2 separate regions of the Homo sapiens genome follow, and region 1 is linked to region 2. Evidence: fine-mapped expression QTL. A gene starts in region 2. The other region holds a variant in brackets. All regions are shown on one strand. Distances are between the middles of the regions. Region 1 overlaps PLLP (plasmolipin). Region 2 holds the start of PLLP (plasmolipin).

Region 1 (2,904 bases), 25 kb before region 2:
GAGAACGGTGGCGCTGATGTTAAAGATCATTAACTGCAGGACATGGGGGTAGGGAGTGGGGAGAGAAAAGGCTTAAGACACAAAGAGAGGCCAGACACGGTGGTTCACACCTGTAATCCCAGCACTTTGCGGGGCTGAAGTGGAAGGATCGCTTGAGCCCAGGAGTTAGAGACCAGCCTGGGGAACATAGGTAGGCCCCATCTCTACAAAAATAAAAAAGTTAGCCAGGCATGGTGGCGCATGCCTGTGATCTCAGCTACTTGGGAGGCTGAGATGGGAAGATCACCTGGAGCCGGGAGGTTGAGGCTGCAGTGAGTCATGATCACACCACTGCACTCCAGCCTGGGTGACACAGTGAGATCCTGTCTCAAAAAAAAAAAAAAAAAAAAAAAAAAAGACAAGACCAACGGTTGGGGCTTCTTGGTTCCCACTGGCACACTCCTTGAATAGCCATTGGATGGTGATGCAAACACCTGGGTCTTTCCCACCAACAGGGCCTCAAGAGGCCACAGTTTCCAGGGAGTCAGCCCATGAGGCCCTGGTCCCCAGGAGGCCTGCTGAGCAGGGAGCATGAACACACCTGAGGCTGGAGGAGGGGAATGACAGGAGGGCCTCAGTGATGGGGTAGTGGCAGTGCCAGACCCATTCCTCACAGAAAGAGCCCAATCCATGACCCATCTCTTTGTACCAGCTAAAGAAACACAGGCTACTCCTCCAAGTGTGGTCCAGGGCCAAGCCCAGGCCATCCCTGGTACCACTGCAAGGTTTGGCTCTGTGGCCAGTCCTGGGCTGGGCCTCACATCCCTCTCTGCCTTCAGGGGGAAGAATTTTTGTCTCCCTCTTGGCCACATCCTAAGCTCAAGGCTCTAAGCAAATGCCAGGGTCAGGACCAAGAGGACCAGATATTTCAAGCTGGATATGGAACCAGACTGGCAGGAAGGGGCCCTCTGCTGACAACCAGGGACCAGTCCCTCATCCCAAACGCTTGGCCCCAGGAGCCCATTCACCGTCTTCAAACGCCTGGTCCTCAAACATTCATTCAGTTCGTCCAATATACTTTTAAAAAATTACCAACATTATAAAATTAGATTTCATGAAAACCTGAAGACTTCATGTAAAAATTTTATATTAAAAAAATCTTGGCC[G/A]GGTGCAGTGTGGCTCATGCCTGTAATCCCAGCACTTTGGGATGCCGAGGCAGGCAGATCACTTGAGGTCAGAAGTTAGAGACCAGCCTGGCCAACATGGTGAAACCTCGTCTCCAATAAAAATACAAAAATTAGCCAAGAGTGATGGTGCCCACCGGTAATCCCAGCTACACAGGAGGCTGAGGCGGAAGAATCACTTGAACCTGGGAGGCAGGGGTTGCAATGAGCTAAGATCGTGCCACTGCACTCCAGCCTGGGCAACAGAGCGGGACTTTGTCTAAAAAAAAAAAAAAAAAAACTTAGGATATCAAAAGATTTCGCTCCAAAGGGGCTGCATTCCCACTAGGAACAGATGAAGTGAGTATAGAGGCAGCTTGCGATGGGCAGATGGATGCTGGCTTCTCCAGGGTCCCTCCTGACCCAATTTACTCACATATCTTGCCTGGATCCTGTAGGGGTCTGTAGCCCCCATGCCAGAAAATCCCAAATTGGCCATGCTAATCCAGCCTTCTCTAGATGCAGTTAAGCCCTCTCTGCCCCATTCGTTGAGGGTCCAGAAGCACAAGAAGCAATGTCCTGCCACTGTGGCAGAAGGGAGCCTCCTTCCATTAACAGCCACGGCTGGAGCCCCAAATCTGCACCTAAGAGACACACAGGCTTTTATCTCTGGAGATTTCTCTCTTAGAGGTCCCTGGGACGTGAGGGAGGGGGTGGACCCTGAGCCCGGAAGTCAAGGCACCGCCTCCTCGCCCCAAAATCTTCCCTGCAAGCCCAGCGACCCCTGCAAACGCTGCCTGTTTCTGCCAGGGATGTCGAGATCTAACAAACCCATTCTGTCTTGAGGATGACTCACGTTTCCTCGGTTTAAAAAGTCATTGAATTCCAAACAATGCCGCCTAGTCCCAGCCTTGCTTGTCTTACAATCATGTGCCTTTCTCGCCTCTCTTCTCACTGAAAGCCTCAGACCCCAGCTGCAGGGGTTTTCCGGGTCAGAGGAAAAAAAAAACCAGCAGCTTTCTGTGTGTCTGGCCGGGGTACTTCCCATGTCCGCTCTCAGCCCTGTGTCCTGGGGAGACTGTCCTGGGGCAAACCTGGGGAGCCCAGCCTCTCCCAGGCCTCAGGGCCTCACCTGCAGGCAGCCAGGTGCCCGAGCTTGTCCTGCACACTTGAGGCCCTGGCCTGGGCAACTTCTGACAGCTTGCCACAGCCTCCAGCCACAGGGCTGCCTACCTGGGCCAAGCTACAATCTCACAAACTCACACAACACAGGCACAAATTCTGACCACCCCCAGAGGGAAATTTTTTTTTTGAGGTGGAGTCTTGCTCTGTCACCCAGGCTGGAGTATAATGGTGTGATCTCGGCTCACTGCAATCTCCGCCTCCTGGGTTCAAGCAATTCTCCTGTCTCAGCCTCCCAAGTAGCTGGGACTAGAGGCGCGCGCCACCACACCTGGCTAATTGTTGTATTTTGCTAATTGTTGTATTTTTTGTAGAGACAGGGTTTCACCATATTGGTCAGGCTGGTCTCAAACTCCTGACCTCAGGTGATCCACTCACCTCAGCCTCCCAAAGTGCTGGGATTACAGGCGTGAGCCACCACACCCGGCCGGGAAAAATATTTTTAAGATTCCAAATGGCCTCTTACAAATCCACTCAACAGCCCCTCACTTCTACTCCCCTCCTGGGACAAAGTCAAGCCTGTGTCCTTCCTGGCTCATGGTTCCCCAAAAAACCGTGCACCTAGGCATGGTGGCTCACT
Region 2 (2,841 bases):
CAAAAAACTCTGGGAGAACTGTTAAAAATGAATTTCTGGCTGTACTTCCTGAGATTCAAATTCCGATTGCACATTTTTTTCCGGGGGTGGAGTCCAATAATCTAAATTTTAAACAAACCCGCCAGGAGATTCAGAGGTTGGGGAGGGGGCCCACAGAGATCTGAGAAATCCTGAAATGAGATAGCACTGACCCAGGTAGAGGTGGGCCCGCACCTGGAGAGGTCAGGGAAGGGAGACTGGACCTCAGCCCAGGGTCTGGCACCAAAGCAACCACCCTGCCCTCTAGCTTGGGCCTCGCAGCAGCGCTAGCACCCAGCAATAGGAGACAATGGGAAATGTCCACTCGCTGGATTGCTAAGAAATACAGGTCCTGGCCCAACTCCAATTCCACCTGAGTCCTCTGAAAATGTATCAGGCCCTCACCCACCCAGGGCACCCACCCAGCTTCCAGACCCTCACGAAAGGGTGGCAGAGGAAGAAGCTAACATCCGGGCCTGTGGCTGGTGTGGGAGTGGAGGATGTTCCCATGGGTCCGCCTCAGTTGGGGTCTGTACAGGGGTCTGGGAGAGAGTAGGAGTCTTGCCCCTGGCTACCCACAAACCCCTCCCTCCAGCGATATCTCGGTCCCGTGGGGCTGGCTAAACCGGCTGAAACCTGGCGGGTCACCCAGAGAAAGCTAGAAGAGCCCGGCTCCCGCGCGGGCGCCCACAGGGTAGTGCCTGAGTGTGCGTGTTGGGGAGTCGGATGTGCCCTCTAGATTAGATGAGGAATGTTCATGGGTGCGGCCACCCGGAGCCGCTGGGAGCGGGACAGAAGGTGGTCAGAGAGTGGACTTTGCCTCAGACTGGGTTCCCTAGAGGGCTGGGGGCACTGTCCGGGCAGAAAGAGGGGTGAAAAAGAGAGAGGAGGGAAGGGAGGGCTGGGAAGGGTTGGCGGGTTGTGCGCAGTGACTGTGGCTCCGGTGGGGGCTTCTGTGGCCGCTGGTAACCACCTTGGAGGGGGCACGATGGGGCACGGGCAGTGGGCACTCTGTACACGGTGCAGGGTGCTCACGCTCGCAGCGACGGCCACGGGGTAGTGTCGTGGTGAGAGGGATGCAGGGCGATCTTGGGGGCGTCCGTGCGGGAAGCGCCCTAGGGGTACGCGCAGCGCGTCGGTGACAGTGTGAGCCCGGGTGGGGAGCGCAAGGTTCGCGAAAAATGAACGCAGCGCCGGAGTCCCTCACCCATCCTGGCCGGACCGGGAGCCCCCGGCCAACCCCGTGGGCCCGCGCGTGCTCTCACCAGCTGCAGCAGCATGAGCGCCCCGAGGCGGGAGCGCACGAAGCCCAGGTCCGGGCGCAGCGCCGACACCGAGGCTTCGGCGCCCTGCGCAGGACTGCTGGTCCGCGTGCTAACTTTCGACGGGAACTCGGCCATGGCGGCTCCGCTTGCCTCCCGAGGTCGCTACGGCCGCCGTCGCCGCCCCTCCAGCGGTGGGTGCCGGCTCCCGCGCCGCTTTTCCCCCAGGCTCCGGATCCCTGTGTGGCTCCAGGCGCTGCAGGAGGCGTCGGGGCTGGGAGCCTGGGGCGCCAGGTGCGGCCGAGATCCCGGCTCCGCCCCCGCCGCCGGGGCCGCCCCCTTAACCCTTTGCTCGCCGCCGCCGCCCCAGCCGCGACCGGTTCGTGGGCAGCCGCGTCCACTCCCCGGACCAGTAAACAACCCCGGGTCCGTGAATCGGCTCCGCCAGCACCAGCCTAGACCGCTTCGCCGGCCTCCCCCGGGGCAAGCCGCCCGCTGGGAATTTCCCGGCTCTCGCCCAGGCCGTGGTAGCTTCCGCGCCTAGGGATAAACTTGTGGTAGCTCGCGGGGGACACCGCTCTCCCAGGCGCTTTCTACGCGCTGTGCACCCTCGGCCTAGGCCCCGGCGCAGCGACTCTTGAAGAGTCCCGGGAGAAGGCTGGATGCGGTGGCTCCTGCCTCTGATCGCAGCACTTTGGGAGGCTAAGGTGAAAGGATAATTTCAGGCCAAGAGTTCGAGACCAGCCTGGGTAACACAGTGAGACGCCCCCCCTCCCCCCGTCTGTATTTTATAGAAAAGAAAGTAAAGAAGAATCCTGGGAGACCCAGCGCGGGGAAGGGGAGGGTCTGGGTAAGCGGTGGGTAAGCGGTAGAAGGGGGAGGTCCTTTTCTGCCTATTAATGCTGTTTTCACTTCTGAACATATTTTATATAACTTAGATGATCGCGGAGCCTCAGTTTCCTCGTCTGTCATATAGATACGAAGGAAACCTGCCTCACAGAGCGTTGTAGGGAATAAATGAAATATTCCCCAGAAAGCTCCTGACAGCGTGAGGGAGGAGGGGTCACTCAGAAGATGGGAGGTCATATACAGTTTCATTGCCACACATGCACCCTAAAATACTTACACACACACACACACCTCTTGAGCCTAGAGGTTTGCACAGATAGGTCATCATGCATTCATCAACCAATGTTTGCTGAACACCTACTACATGCCAGGCCCTGTGGATACAGCAGGAAACGAAGTAGACAAGGCCTTCTTGGCTCCCACATTTTTTTTTTCCCAAATACCCACTTAAAAAGAGAGCCACTTAAAAAATTGTTTTTAACTGACATGTAATATTAGGTTGGTGCAAAAGTTATACGGTTTTTGCATATAAAAGTATAGCAAAAACCGCAATTACTTTTTCGGCAACCTATAATTGTACCTAAATATGGGGTACCATGTGATGTTTTGGTACCTGTGTACGTTGTGTAAAAAAATCAAATCAAGGTACTTAGCATATCCATCACCTCATACATTTATGGCTTCTTTGGGGTGAGAACATTCAAAATCCCCA

What was found. PIP is the estimated chance that this variant, and not a neighbour inherited with it, causes the effect. A credible set is the group of variants that fine-mapping cannot tell apart.
Region 1: its variant is the best candidate, but not a certain one, in a credible set for the expression of PLLP in whole blood (TOPMed, PIP 0.86).

Annotation. Positions count from the first base shown.
Region 1 is chr16:57,258,552-57,261,455 of GRCh38, forward strand. It overlaps PLLP (plasmolipin), which reads right to left. Exons shown (of 4, transcript NM_015993.3): 3 at 1-33. Among named protein-coding and RNA genes, the nearest start is that of ARL2BP, 15 kb to the left of the region's middle. RefSeq lists enhancers at 512-1,067, 2,111-2,250, 2,261-2,320, 2,732-2,904. The variant G/A (reference allele first, on the strand shown) is at 1,146.
Region 2 is chr16:57,283,123-57,285,963 of GRCh38, forward strand. It overlaps PLLP (plasmolipin), which reads right to left and starts at 1,550. Exons shown (of 4, transcript NM_015993.3): 1 at 1,284-1,550. The coding sequence starts at 1,418. RefSeq lists an enhancer at 628-1,289 and a silencer at 1,334-1,743.